Linked DNA regions of Homo sapiens: all the other regions are linked to region 3. Evidence: fine-mapped QTL for protein levels in blood plasma. A gene starts in region 3. Each other region holds a variant in brackets. All regions are shown on one strand. Distances are from middle to middle.

Region 1 (6,793 bases), 79 kb before region 3:
CTCTGAAGACACCAGAGCTAACAACCGTCTCCCCTGCTGTTCCCCAGCACCTCCTTCACTCAGAACATTCCCAATCAGCAAACATTTACTGAGAATTTTAGGAAGGACCTAGCATGATGTTGGCCATACTACTGCCCTTTGAGAAAAAAAGTATATGAATGGGATAAAAGTGTGTCAAAAATACAAAAGTAGCAGAGGAATGAACAGTTTTCTACTGGACTGGGATGAGGTAAGAGCTGGAATTTTGTACGGCCAAGGCCCCGCCTTGAGTGTGCAGCTCCTACCTGAGATCCGAGTGGGCCCGAATCTTCTGGACCTTAATGTCCGAGTCCAGCACGTTCAGCAGCACAGCCAGCTGCCTCACAAGGGTGTCCTTCCGCTGCTCTGTCAGCTGCCCAACACCAACCTGCAGGGTCAGCTCCACCAGGCCACTCTTCCTAGGGTCTGGGGAAAGAGAAGATACAGGATTTGCACTTGGACATTTGCACAGGCTTTAGAGCATAAGGAGCGAGGTTTCTATAGGAGCTCAAAGTTACTCCTATGCCATTTCTACATTTGAGTTGTAGCACTCAGGTAAATTCTTCTAAACACCGCAAAGGCCACTATCTGGGAGTACTTTCCCTTGTTTTATCACAGTTTGTTGTTTATAATTTTTTTTCCAGAAGATAATCGGGTGTACCTAATTAGCCTCTGGGCTAGCTGAAAATTTCAGCCTCTTCCACATTTTCCCAGGACCAGAAAGAGAATTTTGCTTCCAAGTGCCAATGGGCACTTCCCAGTCCAGTTTATGCTGAGGTCGTTACAGCCACTTCACTGGAGCTGCCTCCCTCTGTGCCCTGGTATGAGGCCCTTGTGTCCACTTCACATTAAGTCTTTGTCTTCTGGCAGGAAAACAAACATGAAAAGAAAATCTAGTTGCCAGATAACATTCTCTTTTAAAGAGTGATGAGGCTGGATCTATCTGGGGATACACAACAAGGTGTAAGAGACATCCTCAAAGTGGGTCCAGCCAAGAGCTGGAGCCAGCCACAGGAGGCCTCCCACACTGGTCACATCTGTCAGCGTAAAGACCCCAAAGGCTGACCAGCCAGAGCCTGCATGGCCAGCTCCAGAGCCCAGGAACTCACCTGGCTGCACTTCCACAGTGGCAGTGTCTGTGTCCGAGGCCCCCTGACTGTCGGTGACTCGCAAGTGGAAAGTGTACACCCCCTCCACCAGATTCGTAAGCTGCAGAGCCACACTGTGGTCAGAGCCATCGATGACATCCTGCGAAAGAACACGGATCACAGGGCAGCTGTCAATCCTCGGGTCCCAATTTCTGGGCTTCTGTTGATCCTAAACCTCAGTGTCCCATCTTTTTAACACAGGCGTGACTTTAAGAGGGAGGCTGCAGGGAATGAGGCTGGCGGGATAGCTAAAGACTGGAGAAATCCTCAGCATCTCTTCCCCAAAAAGCACCAGGGGGCACATCCTCAGACAGTATTTCCTGAACTGAACTAAGTTTACCAAGCACTTTCCAGGAATTACCAAATAATTAATTGTATCCAACAAAGGGAAAGACCATTTGAATTAGGGCAAGGACGCTGAGAACAAAGCACAGGTTTTCTGGGTCTTATTTTCAAACATAGCTTTACAAAACTCTCATCTTGAATTCCCTCATAATGTATCATGTTCACCTGAAATAACCCAAGACCCTGTGTAGCGTCCTCTGTTCTGTGGGCTTCTAAGCTCCAAAGAATGAGAGAAGAACCTCCCAGACTCCTGCTAATAGAAGGGGTGATAACGAATATGTGCTGTGAACAGAGACTCATTGTTATTACATTTAGAGGCTAATCCCCCATCTAGTTGAATAGTGTTAATTCTAGAAGTGCTTAGAAAGTATAAAGCATTTGGCAGGGCATGGTGGCTCACGCCTGTAATCCCACCACTTTGGGAGGCAAAGGCAGGCGGATCACGAGGTCAGGAGATCGAGAACATCCTGGCTAACAAGGTGAAACCCCGTCTCTACTAAAAATACAATACAAAAAAATTAGACAGGCGTGGTGGTGGGCACCTGCAGTCCCAGCTACTCGGGAGGCTGAGGCAGGAGAATGGCTTGAACCTGGGAAGTGGAGCTTGCAGTGAGCCTAGATCGCACCACTAAACTCCAGTCTAGGTGACAGAGCGAGACTCGGACTCAAAAAAAAAAAGTATAAAGCATTTTCAGTTCCTTCCCTGTGACCACTCCTTAGTACATCTCCAAGACTAAATCTGTATCTCTCCAGTCCTTAGAAATGGCAGGAATGAAGACGTACATACATTTATGTCCTAAGAGGCAGAGTGATCTAATGGGGGTAAAATGCCTGCCAGGAGCTAAAAACCTAGGTGTGTCTAGTTTGATTAAAAATGGATTAGTTAAGGCTGGGCGCGGTGGCTCACGCCTGTAATCCCAGTACTTTGGGAGGCCGAAGCGGGTGGATCACAAGGTCAAGAGATCAAGACCATCCTGGCCAACATGGTGAAACCCCATCTCTACTAAAACTACAAAAATTAGCTGGACGTGGTGGCACGTGCCTGTAGTCCCAGCTACGCGGGAGGCTGAGGCAGGAGAATAGCTCGAACTCGGGCAGCGGAGGTTGCAGTGAGCCGAGATTGCGCCACTGCACTACAGCCTGGGCGATAGAGTGAGACTCCATCTCAAAAAAAAAAAAAAAAAAAAAAGAACAAAAGAAATGGATTAGTTAACCTCGGCCAAGTCACTTCTCATCTCTGCATTTCGCCTTCTGCATCTATAAAACGTAAATAGCAATCCGTGATCTATTGACTCATCTGGTACAATATGAGGAACAGAAAAGAATCCACTTGGACCAAAATACGAAGGATGGAAAAGCATCCTGCTGGAAGACTTGACCTCAAAGTGCTTCCAAGCTATGGTTTCCTGCCCCATCCAAAGTCTGTTCAGGAAAAAGTCAGAAAGGATTTCAGCTTTTGGCTAAATCTCAAAGCAGCCTACTGCCTCCAGCCTTCAGAACATTCTAATGTAGAAGCATAAGCACCTTACAGGGAACAGGGAAAGAGAGATGAGGTCATTATAGAGACACTGCCGTGGACCGAACTGTGTCTTTCCCAGACTCCTGTGTTGAAGCCCTAACCCCATATGACTGTATCTAGAAATAGGACCTATAAGGAAGTAGTTAAGGTTAATTGAGGTCATAAGGGTAGGCCCCTGATCCAATAGGATTTACTGTCCTTATAAGAAGAGACACCAGAGTGCTCTCTCTTCCCCTGCTATGGGAGGACATGGTAAGAAGGCAGCTGTCTGCAAGCCAGGAAGAAAGACCTCACTGGAAACTGAATTAGCCAGCAACTTGAGCCTGTCTTCCCAGCCTCCATAATGGAGACAAAATTAAGTTCTGTTGTTTAAGCCTCCTTATACTTATATCCTTTCCTTAGAATATACCGTGATATATTGTTTGCAGCCCAAGCTGACTAATGCAGATGTAATGATAAGTGGTCTAGGAGCAATTCTCTCTCAGTACTCACTCCAGCTGCTGGACTCTGGCCATCCCGGATCCACAGATAGGACACAATTCTTTGGTCATCAGTAGACCTTGAACCATCCAAAGTAATGGAATTATTGGGAAGCACAAGAACATGTCTGCCACCAGCCC[G/A]GGCTCTGGGAGGACTATTATTTTCTAAGTCAAATATAGCAAAATGAAAGCAAAGAGATTGATTTAAAACACCAGTGATAGAATAAGTGTGTCATAAAACATCCACAACTCTTCCACCTTGCAGATACAGTATGTAGAATTAAAATATCCAAAAAGGCATTTTTTTCCCCAGATGCATATAAGATACAGACTTCCTTAAAGCTCCATTTGTACTTAGTTAGCTATAATTTGGGATGAAAACGGTAAAGCAGGTGGCAAGCTGTACCTTGGGAATTTTTCTAATATTGTTATACCTTTTCTGTCCTTGAAAAATAGAAACAATGATTTTACCAACATTTAGGGTATTGAAAGTGGCAATATTTTGGTTTACAATATACTTTGGGTCATTTTGTACTGGTCCACACTATCTGGCCAGAAATATTTCCACTTCAAGTACTGCCAAATCTTGACTCTCTAAGACAAAAAAAAAGAAAAAAAAAATTTGAGTAAAAAGTAGGCTGGGTGCAGTGGCTCACACCTGTAATCCCAGCACTTTAGGAGGCCAAAGCAGGAGAATCACTTGAGACCAGGAGTTTGAGACCAGCCGGGGCAACACAACAAGTCTCCATCTCTATGAAAAATTAAAAATTGAAATAATAACAATGATAATTAGGCCCTCACTTCTCTGACTAGGTGTTAAATATAAATGAGGCAATGGCCAGGCATGGTGGCTCATAACTGTAATCCTAACACTTGGGGAGGCTAAGGCAGGATGAGTGCTTGAAGCCAGAAGTTCAAGACCAGCCTGGGTAGCAAGACCCGTCTCCACACACACACAAAATTAAAAATCAGCTGGGCATGGTAACACACACCTGTAGACCCAGCTACTCAGGAAGCTGAGGTGAGAGAATCACTTGAGATCAGGAGTTTGAGGCTGCAATGAGCTATGATCACAGCACAGTACTCCAGTCCGAGCAACAGAGTGAGACCCTGGGTCTATTTTAAAAATAAAAAAATGAGGCAATGTAAAAGCCATTTCTGATGTAATAACTTCAGAAAAGAGGGGCCAGGGAGCACTAACAACACTGGGGTACAGTGGGGAGATCATAATAAGACACAGCCTCAATTTGGAGATGAGGCTGCTGTGAGGCAAATCCTGCTTGTCCAGAAGGGGCTCTGGGACCCAGCCTGATCCCTCCCAATTTCCCCTTAGAAACAAGTCAAGATGCCTGTTCAGACTATTCTCTCTACTTTTATGCATGGTTGAAAATCTCTACAATAAAATCTTTTGAAAAATCCAAATCTATATCACTTTGCTGTTAAAGTTGCTTCAGCCTCTCCCAGCTGCCCAGAGGATAAAGTCCAAACCCCTAAGCATGGCCCGTGGCACATACAACCCTCCATGGCAGAGCCTGTGCCTCAGGCTGCAGCCACTCTCCCAGCGTCCCACACTCTTGCCATTCTACAATGCTTGAACCTTTCCATCCAGCCAGGCTCTTATACTCCTCTGCACTTCAACACGTTGTAATCATCCATTCACTAATTCATTCAACACCTCTGATTTGCCATGAGTCTAGCACTCTGCTATACTGAGGCTATACTGAGGATACAGAGATGTCTGAAGCAAAGACACTCAGGCAGTTCACAGTCAAATGGGAAGACAGACAAGGAGACAAGTACCTAAAGCAGTATTCACTAGTCTAGACCACAGATTTCACACTAAGAAACGATATGGAATTTGAAAACATCTCTTTTCTTGAATTTCCAAGGAATAAAGGAAAAAAAGCATAATGGTGTCATTTGGACGTGGGTCTTTCATTACTAGTAGTCACAGAAGAGTGAAGTCATTAGAAGATATGCTCCACAAACAAAAGGAAATGTCTGCTTGCAGAGGGCGACTGAGAAACAGCTAACATGAATAGAAGAAAGTTGGCTTTTTTTCAGCCAGGCAGGGTTCGGCATCTGCTGCGAACAAATAAGCAAACACCAACATCTCTGAATAGTCATGGCCTGGCTGAGGGTCCTGCAGACTCGAAAGCAGAGCAGGCCCAGCCCTGTCCACCTCAGACCCACTCACCCTTCTTCACAGCCACAGTGAGGGTGGACGTGCTGCTCAGTCCCTGCTGGTCTTTCACTGTCAAACGGAAGTGGTAGGTCCCCACCTGGAGACCAGTCACAGTGGCTATTGCTTTGTCAATATTTTCCATCTCCACTGCACTGGGGCCTCTATAAAACATAGAAGTGGTTAACATAAGGGAGGGGGCATGGGGTTTTGAATATGACAGGCATGCGATTTGTGCTCTTATAAATGTTTTGTTCCAGCTATAATATATACCATTTAGAGAATTCTAAGAAAACTCCATTCATCTGTACTCTCTAGTTCAGTGTAAGAGTCACAAGCTAAAACCTATCTCAGGCAGAGTCTGCTGGATTACTGGGAAGAGAATATTTGTTCTCGATTTTTTTAAGTCAAGCTGCCAGTGAAATGATCTATCCTTGGAAAATGAGCCTTAGAAACGACTCCCATTTCTTCTTTGAATAAAATTAGGTGAAATCCTCATCTATCTTTAGGGAGAGCATGGAAGAGGAGGGAATAAGCCAGATAAGCCCTCTCCTAGGAGAGAGATCACAGTATAGTCACTAAGATCGGGGCTTGTCAAAAATACCTCAGTTTGGGTCCAAGCTCTTTCTCTTACTATCTGGGCAACCTTAGTCTGTGTGGTCTCATTAGTGTCTACAAGCCTCAGTTTCTTCAACTTTAAATAGGAATAATATTCTTATTTATCTCTTACAAACTGATACAGGGTTCTATGAGACAGAGCATGTAAAGCTCAGAAAATGTTAGATGATATGGGTCGCCCCTTACACTGCACTTCTGGTGTCTACAGTCACTGCAGGATGGGTTGAGTGTAGACAGGATCACACACAGGTTTCCCTGAACCTCTTCTGTCATGAGCTCGCCTCACACCAAGACAGCCCTGTTCAACTGCCCCAAGCTCTACCTCCCTCCGCTGTCAATGATGTCCATCCACACTTAATGTACTCTTCAATCAATAACGCCCAGCCACTTCTAGAAACGTGCTTAAATCCCGACTCCTCAAAATGCGCAAGCTGATTGTTTACTACAGATCCTCCAGAGAAGGGATAATATTAGCATTCAGCAT
Region 2 (6,793 bases), 20 kb before region 3:
GCCAAGGCACAATCGTTGGGGTGATCACCAAACGAAAAACAGATCTCAAGCTAAAGCCAGAGAACTGCTCTCTCAAGAGACGGAGATCTACCTCCATGGGGCCCTGGTGGCAGCACTGGGCCTGGGAGAAAAGGAGAGTCAACAGAGTCTGCGAATGCACAGCTCTGCCCTGGAATGAAATCTACTTTATTCTGAAGCACCACACCTCTAGGCAGAGCTCTCCTTCCAGTGGCTGCCTGGGGAGTGCTCACCCGTACACCCCAGAGGGAAACCTGACCAGACACCTCCCACTCATGCACTCAGATGCCACAGCAAGCCTCACATGAATCAATGAGTGGACAGCTACGTCAGAAAGCAGCCAAGTATCCTGATCAGTGGAGCCCCTCACAGATCAAAAGGAACAGGCAACCAAGGACTGCTAGACATTTGAGAAATTAAAAAAAAAAAAAAAAAAGAACATGAAAAAGAAAGGCTATGATAAACAAATAGAAGATTAAAGGAACAAAGAAAAACTTTAAACCACAATTAATATCAATAATTAAAATAGTAATTAGTATCTTTGGAAAAATTTGAAAGGATATTGCCTCCATAAAACAAAAATAGGCTGCTACAAATGAGGGGCAAAAATCAGAGAACAAGAAAAATTATTGGAAATTCAAAATAGGATTGTTAAAATTAAAACCTCAGTGAACAAGTGGAATAACTGTTGATAATGCTAGCAGCTAATATATATTAAGTACCTCCTATGTGTTAGGCCCAGGATCTGTTCTTCGCATTTTAAACATCCTAACATACCTAATAATCAAACTAACCCAGTGAGGCAGGTACTATTATTCTCCCCATCTCACAGGTGAGGAAACAGAGTTAAAGAGATTAATGGCTGGGCACGGTGGTTCACACCTGTAATTTTAGCACTCTGGGAGGCCGAGGCGAGAGGATCACTTGAGATCAGGAGTTCGAGACCAGCCTGGCCAACGAAACCCTGTCTCTACTAAAAATACAAAAATTAGTCGGACATGGTGGCAGGTGCCTGTAATCCCAGCTACTCGGGAGGCTGAGGCAGAAAAATTACTTGAACCCAGGAGATGGAGGTTGCAGTGAACAGAGATTGTGCCACTGCACTCTAGCCTGGGCAACAGAGTGAGGCTCCATCTCATTAAAAGAAAAAAAAAAGAGAGAGAGAGAGAGATTAAGTCACTTGCTCAGACAGCTAAAAATTAGCTAAGTCAGAATTCAAAGTCAAGCTATCTGGCTCCAGAACACCTGTTCTACGTGGCTGAAGGCAAGTTACAGATTTGAAAGGTAGATGTGAGGACATTCCCCTAGTGTGCACATGAACACAAACACACACATACACGCACACACACAAAGACAAAGGAAAAGAAAATATGGGGCAATGTTAGAAGGCATAGGGGAGAGTCCAGAATTTTCATCATCTAGCTAAGAGGCATTATAGGAAGAAAGAACAGAGACAATAGAGGGGAAGAAGTGAAGAAATAATAGAACAAAATTTCCTTTAAATGAAGAAAACCAGTCTTCAAATTAAAAGGGCCTACATAGTACAAGCAGGCAAGCAGGATATATGGCCTAGACATCTTGATAAAAGTTAAGAACTCCAAAAGTTCTTAAGGACATACCCTAAAATCTTCCAAAGAGAAAAAAAATAGGTTACCTTCAAAAGAACCAGAATCACAGAGCAGCATCATATTTCTCATAGGCATTAGTGGAACAACGAGGGCAATGGAGGAATTCAAAATTCTAAGGGGGATGAAGAGGATTGGTGAATGGGTACAAAATACAGTTAGAAGGAATAAGTTCCAGCGTTTGATAGCAAAGTAGGGTGACTATAGTTAACAATAATTTATTGTGCATTTCAAAATAGCTAAAAGAGAAGATCTGGAATGTTCCCAACATAAAGAAATGATAAATATTTGAGGTGAGAGGTGATGATATCCCAGTTATCCAAATTGATCATTATACATTGTATGCTTGTGTCAAAACATCACATGTACCCCATAAATGTGCACAATGATTATGTATCCACAAAAATCCATAAAAGTTAAAAACTTTAATATATACAATATAATACATCTTTAAATTCTAAAGAAAAATAATTTTGAATTTCTTTGTTTTCTTTTTTTTTTTTTTTTTTTTTTTTTTAGACAAGGTCTCACTCTATCACGCAGGCTGGAGTGCAGTGGTGCAATCTTGGCTCACTGCAGCCTCTGCCTCCTGGGTTCAAGCAATCCTTCCACCTCAGCCTCCTGAGTAACTGGGACAACAGGTGTACACCACCACACCTAGCTAATTTTTGGGGTTGTTTTTTTTTTTTTTTTTTTGTAGAGACAGGGTTTCATCATATTGCCCAGGCTGGTCTAGAACTTCTGGGCCCAAATGACCATCTACCTCGGCCTCCCAAAGTTTGGGATTACAGTTGTGAGCCGCCATGCCAGGCCTTGAATTTCTTTATTGCACAAACTATCTATCAAACATGTAAACAAAATCAACATATTTTTGAACATTTGAAAACTCAGAATATTATCACCTGCATACAAATAAAAATTTTTTTGGAGGAGGTATTCCAGCAAAATGAAAAATGAATCCAAGAAAGAATGATGAAATACATGATATATAAGAAACAATAGCAGCTAAGTGTAATGCAGAAGAAGGAAAACATTGAGGAAAAAATAGAAAATGATCTATTAGAAGATAATTGGAAGAACCTTGTGCTGGGACCTTGACACTCAGAATTCATCTGCACAGCTTCATATAGCCCCTACCCTCATCTCCTCTAGGGAAGGGGATGGAAAGGTGAAAATTACATTTCTCAACATCCCTGTACCTAAGGATCTGAATGTTATTCAGGTTCTGCCAATGAAATGCATTCAAGTGAGATTTGGAAGTCGGACGTGAAGCCCTGACTCCCATATTTCCTTCTACATGCAATGTAATGTGGGCTGAACAATGGAACCTGGAGTGCGGTGCCACATGATCCTGTCCTATTCAAGATTTCTGCCCAGCCTTAAGAGTTGTACAATATGGTTAGGCTCTTCAGCCTGTAATCCCACCTACTCAGGAGGCTGAGGGAGGAAGATGGCTTGAGTCCAGGAGTTCAAGGCTACAGTGAGCTATAGCTGCACCACTGCATGCCAGCATGGGCAACAGAATGAGCTCCCCTCTCTAAAAAACAGAAACAATAAATAAAAGAATTGTATAATACAGTACCCCATAACTTCTGTTTTTTTTATTTCTATAAAATTGTCTGCCAAATAGAACAAGAATAAAACTGGTGTTAGGAAAATTGCTTTTCAGATAAATGACAAAATTAGAATCCCAACTTCATACCATATACAGTATAAATTTACATGAATTAAAGGCCTAAATGTGAAATGCAAAGCTTTAAAACTATTAAAAGTAAATGTAGCAGAAATATCTTTCTAACCACTGATT[A/T]GGGATGGATTTATTAACAAGACCCAAAAAGCAAACATTATAAAGAATATATTTAAATATATATATGTGTATTCATTCTCAAATATTTATTGATACAACTTGATAAACAGAGTCTATGGAAATCCATAGCTAACATCATATATAATTGTGAAAGCCTGAAAAGCTTTGCCCCTAAGATCAGGAAGAAGACAAGGATTTTGCTCTCACCACTTCTATCCAACATTGTACTGGAGGTTCTAGCCAGGCCAATTAGGAGAGAAAGCAAATAAAAGCATCCAGATTGGAAAGGAATGTGTAAAACTATGTCTATTCACAGATAACATGATCTTATATACAGAAAATCCTAAGGAGTCCACAAAAATATGACTAGAGTTCAGCAAGGATGATATGAAAACAACATACTAAAGTCAATTGTATTTCTACACATTAGGAATGAATGAGCTGAAAACAAAATTAAGAAAAGAATTCTGTATACTAACATACTAACAGCATCACAAAGAGTAAGTACTTAGGAATAAATTTAACAAAAGAAGTATAAGTCTTGTACAGTGGAGACTGTAAAACATCATCAAAAGAAGTAAAGACAACCTAAATGAATGGAAATAACTCAAATGCCCATAGGCTTAAAATGGATAAACATATCATGGTATTATATATCTATCCGGTGGAATATTATTTGGCAATAAAAAAGGAACGGCATATCTACTACATCATGGATAAACCTTGACACCATTATGCTAAGTGAAAGAAATCAGACACAAGGACCACATTTTGTACCATTCTATTTACATGAAATGTCCAGAATACGCAAATCCATAGAGATAGAATGCAAATCAGTGGCTGCCAGTGGTGGGAAGGAATGGCATGTGACAGACTGTTTAAGCATCTGAGGATTTTTTAGAAGTGGTGAAAATGGGGCCGGGCTTGGTGGCTTGTGCCTGTCATCCCACAACTTTGGGAGGTCGAGATGAGAGAATCACTTGAGGGCAGGATTTTGAGACCAGCCTGGTCAACATAGCAAAATCCCGTCTCTACTAAAAATACAAAAATTAGCTGAGTGTGGTGGCACACACCTGTAATCCCAGCTACTCAGGAGGCTGAGGCACGAGAATCGCTTGAACCTGGCAGGTGAAGGTTGCAGTGAGCAGAGATCGTGCCACTGCACTCCAGCCTGGGCAACAGAGCAAGACTCGCTCTCAAAAAAAAAGGGGGTGAAACTGTTTTGAAATTGATGGTTGGATAACTGTGAATATACTAAAAGCTACTGAATTTTATACTTTACATGGGTAAATGTTCTGATATGGGAAATATATCTCAATGAAGCTAACATTTTAAAAAGAAAATGTATTGAACACCTATGTTTGCAGGGCACTATTCTAGTTTGTGAGGATATAGCAGTGAATAAAAAGGTTCCCTTTGGGAGTTTCCATTCCAGTGGAAGGGCCACATAAATTGTCCCAAGATACCCAAGGAATTTTGAGGTTTTATTGTGCAATTAGTTTTGGTAAACTGTGCAGAATAATGATGAAAAAGAGAATTTCCAGAAGCTAGGCGGCTTCTGGAACAAAAGTTCCAATTTGCAGGAAGGTAATAAGGTTATTTACAGAAATGGCAAGTTAAGACCTAGGTGCCAAACTCCAGCAACATTCTAGAGTGAGTTATTGAACAGATAATTCATGAGCACTTCACAAAGACATTAGTGACCAATTTATAAGTGCGGTCTTAAAAAAAGCAGGGCAGGCCAGCAGAACTCAATTGTTTTTCTTTCTACTTTTCTATATTTTCCAAATTTTCCATAATGATAACATGTAATATATCTTAGTAACAAAAGGGGACTTCACATACTTTTTAGATGGCTGTTGTTCCCATGTTGTTAGATCAACAGAATGCTGTAAGAATTATGGGCTGGCAGGCTCTCCCAAGACATCCTTATGTGTACAGTGCAGAAATGCGCTGGGGATGATGTTACAATTAGAGATCACTGTCAACAGGTGGTAATGTGCTACCTGATAACCTCCTGGTCAAAATTTCTGCTGAGGACTTAGTGCTCAGTCATAGCCATGGAAAGAATGAATTGGGAGGGAAGGTGATTAGGTCTTAGTGAGCATTTTCCCTCCCTCCCTTCCTTCTTTCCTTTTTTTCCTCCCTCCTTCCCTCCTTTCCTCTCTCCCTTCCTTCCTTGTTTTCTTCTGAAAGACATGATTATGGTCTGATAAACAGAGGTCAGAATTAGGGAACAAATGATACAGTGAGGAATTCACAGCAAGGGCCTACCTAGGTCATGAGCTGTGGCCCTAGCAGAATAAAGAAATGAACACGATGTGTAGCCTGAAAACTGGAATTTACCTCAAGCACCAAAGTAACCTTTCCTACTCCGTAAATGGGAAAAGAGGCCAGGACTTCCAGCAATCTTCTTACTGGTTTCAGTTCAGGGACTAACATTATGGTCTTAAAAGTACAGATAATTATCTAATGAACTGTTAATTAATCCACAGAAGACAATCTAGAAGAGGAATATTTGTGTGCATCATTTATAGTCACTATTCAAAAATTATTAAACTACTCAAATAACAGCATAAATGTTCACCAGAAGAATGCTGAAGACATGTCCTGAATGTAGGAGCCTCCTTCCAAATACTGCTTATTCTAGGGCAAAATGAACTGAGTAATTGTGCTAATGAAAAGTTAGACATTATTCATCATTGCTTCCAGGTTTTATATTATTTCAAGCACACGTAGTGCTGGAAAGCATGTCCTAATAATTACAGAACATGGGCAATAAAAACATCCTATAATGGCATTTAGCTTCCTAAATCACCATATTTTTAAAAATCTAAACTTCCTAAATAAGTAAATTTGTGGACTGTTGCTTTTATAGACCTTGTTTTAGAGTAAGTACTGGTTAGAAATGTCAGGTATTGTAATTTTCCCACCTTTTTAAGAATTTTTTTGCTTTCCGTTCAATAATTTTTCTAAGGAACCTTATGTTTTTCTGTTTTCTAGCCTGTAAGTTCTCTTTAAAGTGTTTTTATTTTAATATGTCACATTTGATTCTGAAAGAATTCATGAGACACACTTGTAAGTTTTAAAGTGCAACTGCCCTGTGGGTTTTTAAAAGATCTGACCAGGTCCAGAACACCTGTCCATTTCCGTTCCCCCATCAGGTTCTCACTGCAGTGCTTTTTTCTTTCTTTCTTTTTTTTTTTTAATACAACCCTTGCATTTACCATCTGAATTAGTTTCCTAGGGCTACTGTAACAAAGTACAGCAAACTAAGCACCGGAAAACAACAGAAATGTTTTGTAGTCTCCCACAGTTCTGGAAGCTGGAAGTTGGAAATCAA
Region 3 (6,793 bases):
AAGAAAGAAGAAAAGAAAAGAAAGACATTTTAAAGGGTTATTTTGAAAAAATTTTGAAGGTAACTCTGTTACAATGATTACAAGACAGTGCAGCTACACATCATGTACTTCATCTTAATGATGAAAACAAAAGATGGTAAGGTATGCTGACATAATCACAATCTTAGAATAACAGAACAGGATTGTGATCCTGGGAAGGGACAGCCCATACTTCCCCATCATCACATGAATAAACATCCTATCAACTGTAATGCTTAAAATGTATGGGTGTTATGGGTGGCAACGCTGGAGTTAATTTACCCTCCATGCTTATATTCTGATGCTTAATAGCATGGAATGACCCCAACTTTGAAAATTCATTTTTAGGCCTGAATTATCCTCTTATTCAAGCTACATTGCTTAAATTAAATAGATGCTTACTATAATCCTTTGCTGCATTTTTTTTTTTTTTGAATTAGAGTCTTGCTCTGTGGCCCAGGCTGGAGTGCAGTGAGGCAATCTGGGCTCACCGCAACCTCCGCCTCCCGGAGTTCAAGTGATTCGCCTGCCTCAGCTGGGATTACAGGCGCCCACCACTATGCCTGGCTAATTTTTGTATTTTTAGTAGAGATGGGGTTTCACCATGTTGGCCAGGCTGGTCTCGAACTCCTGACCTCAGGTGATCCGTCCATTTCGGACTCCCAAAGTGCTGGGATTATAGGCATGAGCCACCGCGTTCCCAGCCTCCTTTGCTTTTTTGAACTTAAGGAAAAGAATGACCAGCAAGTTGGCAGGCAGGATAATTCTACAATATTATTTAGAAGGAAAAATAACTAAAACTTGAACACTATTATCTTTACCTACTGGTGTCATTTAAGCAGCTCTACTTTAAAACTTAAACACCTACTGTTAAAAGACCCTGCAAAATGATGATGCCAGATGTTACTCTGGCTCAACCATTTTTATTGTTTAATACAAATAAATGAGAAAATATTTTCTTATTATTGAATTCACATGAATAGTGTCTAAAGGTACAGATTTTTAAAGACAAATAGAAAAATAACCTACACTATTCGGGTAATGGGTACACTAAAAGCCCAGACTTTGACACTACACAATATATCCACATAACAAAACTGCACTTGTACACTCTAAATCTATAAAAAAAATTTTAAAAACAAATAGAAAAATAACCTACCAATTATTCTAGGCCTACTAAAGCAAAGCTCCTTCCTTGGGGGTATTAAGCTACCAGAATATTAAATTGACATGATTTTATGATTTTGATTATTATATTTATTATTGTTGCTGTTATAAAGGTGCTGCAAGGAAAAATTTATGCATTTTATGATGATTTGATATCATAAATCAGAACAAGCTTTGGACATGTCAAAATAAATCTATTTTTTAGTACCAAATTATTTTTAAGGTATGAAAAATATTTCCTGAAAAAGAACACATCTCAAAAATAACAACACTTATTGAAGCGTTACTATTAAAACATGCCAGGCAATGAGCAAAGATCTCTTAAACATATTATTGTATTTAATTCTTACAGGAATTTCGTTAAGTAGGTCCCATTGTTATCTCTATTTTACAGGTGAGGAAACTGAGCCTTAGAGGGTTTAGAGAATTTGCCAAATGTGAGACAGCCACTAAGTGGCAGAGCCACGCCCAAACCCACACCCTCTGACCTGGCAATCTGCAGCACTCCGTTCCAGAAACGGGCATACCTGGCTCTACATACAGCAGTGCCTCAATAACATAGTTTCATTCAACGTTGGTGACAAAAAAATTCCTGGCCAGGGCCACTGTCTATGTGGAGTCTGCTCATTCTCCTCATGTCTGCGTGGGTTTTCTCTGGGCTTCGGTTTCCTTCACATCCCAAAGCTGTGCATATGTCTACATGGTCCCCGTCTGAGTGAGTGGGTGTGTCTGTGAAAGTGCACCCTGTGATGGGATAGCTTCCTGGACAGGGGAGAGGGGGGGGTTCCCACTCTGAACCAGGGAGACTCTGGCTACCCATGACCTTGAACTGTAATAATTGGGTAAATAATGATCTTGTTTTTACTAATCCTTCTTAACTGTATGTATAGATCCCATTTATTTCTATGTTTAATATTAGAAGTGTTGTGGTCTTTATTTAGAAGTTTGGTGATTTTTTTATGACCAGAAATATGCTGTAGGAACTTAACTCTTGTTTATATCAATTAGCCTGTGGTAAAATTGGTTTCCTTATACCTCGTTGTGCTTAAAGGTTCACAGTTTCCAAGAACGTATCAAGAATGTTAAGTGAGGACTTACTGTATTTATTTAAAGAGAATGCTTCCTATCTATTGGCTAGGGAAAAAAAAAAAGTCAAGAAAATTTAACAGCAACTCTATTCTTTTACATTCATACATTACCAAAGCTCTCTTTTGGCTATTTTTAATTCATAAAGATTTTGGCTGAATTATTTTCATTATTTCGAAACAAAAATTAAGTTCTTGCCTCGGCATTTTGCATTACAAATGCAAATGCATTACAAATGGTTAATACAAATAAATCAGAGTACTTAGGTAATATGTTTACATTTCCCTTTTTCAAATTACAGAGGAATTCACCTTTCTCTGTGACTCCTACGTCTATAACTGAACTGACACCTCCAGTTTTCCTCATCTGAATTAAAAATAATACTAAAAAAAGCACAAAATAAAAGTTTAGATTTGGCATAACTTTAGTAGTCTCTACAATTGTGGTCTTCTTATAATAAATTGAAGCATTTGGAAAGTGAGCATGTATTTCAGGAATAAAGAAATAAATACCAACATTTACTTCCAAAATTCTTGTGTGTGGGGGGGAACATTGTCTACAATTTATTTTTTCTGTTACTATCAAAAACATCATTCAACTTTTCAATTCAAGCAGTGGAAAAAATACTAACATTTCACCGACAAACAAAAATGTTTTGATGAACAAACCAGCAATAAAAGTGCACATGAGTATGTATATCATATTTTTCCTCCTTGTATTTAATTAACAAATGACCTTAAGATGATAACTCTCAAAATTTCAGGTTTATCCTCCCGATTAATTTGTGACATTCCTTGGAGGGAATTCAAAGGGAAGAAGAGAAAGATTTTAAGCTTCAGGTTATGGTAAGGAACAGAGACAAAATGCATTTAGCAAATAATAGGAAAGATCACATAAATAGTTCTGAATGAAGTTTAAAGAAAACGATTCCTTACTTCTAAAAAAATGCAATTCGTGAGGTTGGGAAAAGACACTCAAATTTCCCCGACTCCACCCTACTAGTCAACAATCAGTGCAGCAATCAAAAAATGCCCTTTCCTGAATGCCCAGAAGAATCTTAAGAAACTCACCTTCTGAACTCAGGGCGTCTCGATTCTACTTTTGTTGGGTATTGGCCTGCCTACTGGCTGCCCTCTTTCCTATTTCTCGGCCAGGCGCTCTGGGAAGTAGATACCGTACCTGTGGTCACTGCTGGCGACACTGAAGCTCGCCCCATGCGTTGCTGCTGGCCCTGAGCATCACTCGCCGTCCCACTTGTTCCTCCTCGTCGTCATCGCAGGTCTTACACACACACACACACACACACACACACACACACACACACACACACACGTTCACACCCTCGCGCGCGCACCTGCTGTTAAGAGGTACAGCCCCACCCCAGCAAAATCCTCGCTTCCTCTTCCCCGGGACGTAGCCCCAGAGGAGCGAATCTGGACCAAGCCCAAGACAGGCTGAAGCTACTGCTGCGCTCTCACCTCCGGCAGTGACAGCGAGCGCCGCCGCCGCTCTGCGCGGGGCCAGCCAGGCCCGCCGAGGGCAGCACAGGTGGAGCAAGGTTGCACCCCCGGGGGATCCCCGCCCACCGCCCGCGGCAGCTTCTGCAGGCTCGGGGAAAGCGCGCGCCAGTGATTCAGCGCCTTTCCGCCGCCGCGGTTACCACGGCGACGCGCGCGCACGCGCACACACGCCCTCAGGGATGTGGGGCGCGGCAGCCGCCCCTGCCCAGCTCCCCTGCTCAGCTCCCCTGCTCAGCTCCCCGGTTGCGCTCTAAGTACCCGCACCGGGGCGACACACTCCCACCCCGCAGGGGACCAAGCAAAAGTCTTTCGTGAACCTGAGCGGCCTTCATACCCTACCTGCTTTCCTTCACCAAGCCCTTCCCTGTCACCGTGGCCCTAAACAGTCTGGGGGATGAACACTCCTTCCAAATAAACACCCGGGCCAGGGTGGCTCAAGGGAGCCGTGGGTGCACTGCCTGGGTCAAACACCCTTCGCGAATGTGTCCCCCAGCTTGTCCCCAGCTTGTGTCACCCCAGCTACACAAGTTCCATTCTTCCAGTGGGAGTCTCTTTGGCCCCTACTCTGTAATTATCTTTCTATTTTGAGCAGGTGCTTTCTGACTGAGACTGGGAACCTGTGCTAGGAGGGGCTCCCATCACCTCCAGGCCTTGCAGGTTAACTGGATGCCCAGTATAGTTTGACATTTGCATCTTGAGGAACGTGATAATCTAAACCACAGAAAACTTGGGTGGAAGACTCTTGCATTTTTACTGTTTTAATAAAGATGCGAAAGCATCTAGGGATAATATCATGAGCAGAAAAGGTAGCCAGGGCATTCCTCGCACATCTCATTACTAGGAGGTATAAGTGCAGTGCTTAGGGCTGAGTCACACACTGTTGATGAATAAGCTTCTTGGCTACTCGTATTTACCGAAGAGCCTCAGACAAGTTACCTAATCTAGATAAACCTGTTTCCTCAATTATAAAATGAAGATAATAGCATTCATATAGGATGATTCTGGGAATCAAATAAGATAATGCACATTTAAAGAGTAAAAACCAGCTGGGTGCGGTGGCTCACGCCTGTAATCCTAGCACTTTGGCAGGCCGAGGCGGGCGGATCACGAGGTCAGGAGATCGAGACCATTCTGGCTAACACGGTGAAACCCCCGTCTCTACTAAAAATACAAAAAATTAACCGGGAGTGGTGGCCCGCGCCTGTAGTTCCAGCTACTTGAGAGGCTGAGGCAGGAGAATCGCTTGAATCCAGGAGGCGGAGGTTGCAGTGAGCCGAGATCGTGCCACTGCACTCCAGCCTGGGCGACAGAGCAAGACTCCGTCTCAAAATAAATAAATAAATAAATAAATAAATAAATAAATAAATAAATAAATAAATAAAAACTAAAGAGTAAAAACCTGTCCAGGACTCAAAGAGTGAAAATCAGCTTGGACTTGGAAAAGTTAGTACTGCCAATGATCAATGATCAGGCTGAGAGGACAAAGTCAGAAGCAAAATTAACAGGCAATGTTGTTTCCTCTGAAGTCACGCAGCAGGTACAAAACAACACAACTCCTTGTGTTCCATTTTTGAATGACTACTACTTTCTACCTTTGCTTTACTATTCCCATCCATAACTGGGGATACCCAATTGCTAAACTCCCTTCACCTCCTGACAGCACCCAATCCCTCATTAATCCCCCTTTCTCTCAATCTGCCTCAGAAACAGCAACCAACTGGATCCCAGCTCTGATTCCAAGACTCTCCCTGGAATCCTTTAATAGGAAGCCAAATCTTTACAAAAGACACTTCCTCCTTTCTGTGCTCACATGGCATTCCACAGGTACTCTTTCAATGCATCAAGCCAATGAATCTGATTTTGTCCCCAACGATCCTTGGCTGATTAGCCTTTAAAGAAACATATTTTTAGCACATACACACACACACAGGCTTAGCCCAGAATGTTTAACTATACCATCTTTTTAACTCAGAGACACTGTAATGAATATCTATTTTCATTTTTAATGAATATATCTATTTTGGTATTGTATGAAAATGTTAGTCTCCTTCTTTAGGACACAGATGTGAGGCTACTACCTTTCACTTCTTTTCAGCATTCAGTGGACATCCATTGAGCTCCTACTATATGCCAGACACTGCAAGAGGTAGTAAGGATAAAATGATGTATCCTTAGTATAATTAACTTTGTCTGCTCTTGCTTATGCTTTTGGTTGGGACATTTGTACAATAAAAGATAACTTATTTTGAGGGTGGGTAAAACTGAGGTTTAGGAAGGTTAAAGTACATTCCACATCAGTGGTAAAAATGGTGCTTAGCGTAATGACAGTGCTGCCTCATTGAAATACAAGACTTTAGGCCACGTACAGTGGCTCATGCCTATAATCCCAGCACTTTGTGGGCGAGGCAGGAGGATTGAGTGAGCCCCGGAGTTCGAGGCCAGCCTGGGCAACATAGCAAGATCCTCTCTGTACAAAAAACAAAAACAAATAAAAAGTAGCTGGGTGTGTGGTGCACACCTGTAATCCCAGCTACCCAAGAGTCTGAGGCTAGAGGATCACTTGTGCCCAGGAGGTTGAGACTGAAAAAAAAAAAAAAAAAAACCCAGAAGATTCTATGTTGGAATTTCACTAAGCAGGAAGGTAAGGCAAGCAAAGCTACTACACTGGAAAAACTTTGAAAAATTCCAAGTAAAAAACTCAAGATATAGCAAATTAGTAGGTTAATTCATTGATAACTATTGCTCATGAAAGCAGACTAAAAGTGGTTTTTTTTGAGACAGTCTTGCTCTGTCGCCCAGGCTGGAGTGCAGTGGCACGATCTCGGCTTACTGCAACCTCCGCCTCCCAGGGTCAAGTGATTCTCCTGCCTCAGCCTCCTGAGTAGCTTGGATTACAGGCACGTGTCACCACGCCTGGCTAATTTTTGTATTTTTAGTAGAGATGGGGTTTCACCATGTTGGCTAGACGAGTCTTGAACTTCTGACCTCAGGTGATCCACCTG

Which allele goes with the higher level. Alleles are on the strand shown, and positions count from the first base shown. The strength of an association depends on the size of the effect and on how common the allele is.
For the plasma level of the protein whose gene starts at base 3,906 in region 3, allele G in region 1 goes with a higher level than allele A (moderate association).
As copies of T replace A in region 2, the plasma level of the protein whose gene starts at base 3,906 in region 3 goes up (moderate association).

Evidence for each region. A credible set is the group of variants that fine-mapping cannot tell apart. PIP is the posterior inclusion probability: the model's chance that the variant is causal. The UK Biobank Pharma Proteomics Project read protein levels with antibody pairs (Olink). The fine-mapping took linkage between variants from a reference panel, not from the people measured, so its PIPs are less certain.
Region 1: its variant is the best candidate, but not a certain one, in a credible set for the plasma level of the KIAA0319 protein (UK Biobank, PIP 0.85). The variant lies in the coding sequence of KIAA0319. If it changes the protein, the assay may bind it differently, which can mimic a change of level.
Region 2: its variant is the best candidate, but not a certain one, in a credible set for the plasma level of the KIAA0319 protein (UK Biobank, PIP 0.71).

The regions. Positions count from the first base shown.
Region 1 is chr6:24,563,075-24,569,867 of GRCh38, forward strand. It overlaps KIAA0319, which reads right to left. Exons shown (of 21, transcript NM_014809.4): 13 at 5,707-5,855; 14 at 3,523-3,674; 15 at 1,128-1,266; 16 at 285-444. Among named protein-coding and RNA genes, the nearest start is that of ALDH5A1, 72 kb to the left of the region's middle. The variant G/A (reference allele first, on the strand shown) is at 3,651.
Region 2 is chr6:24,621,884-24,628,676 of GRCh38, forward strand. All of the region lies in intron 1 of KIAA0319, which reads right to left. Among named protein-coding and RNA genes, the nearest start is that of KIAA0319, 21 kb to the right of the region's middle. The variant A/T (reference allele first, on the strand shown) is at 3,451.
Region 3 is chr6:24,642,286-24,649,078 of GRCh38, forward strand. It overlaps KIAA0319, which reads right to left and starts at 3,906. Exons shown (of 21, transcript NM_014809.4): 1 at 3,451-3,906. RefSeq lists a silencer at 3,751-3,960.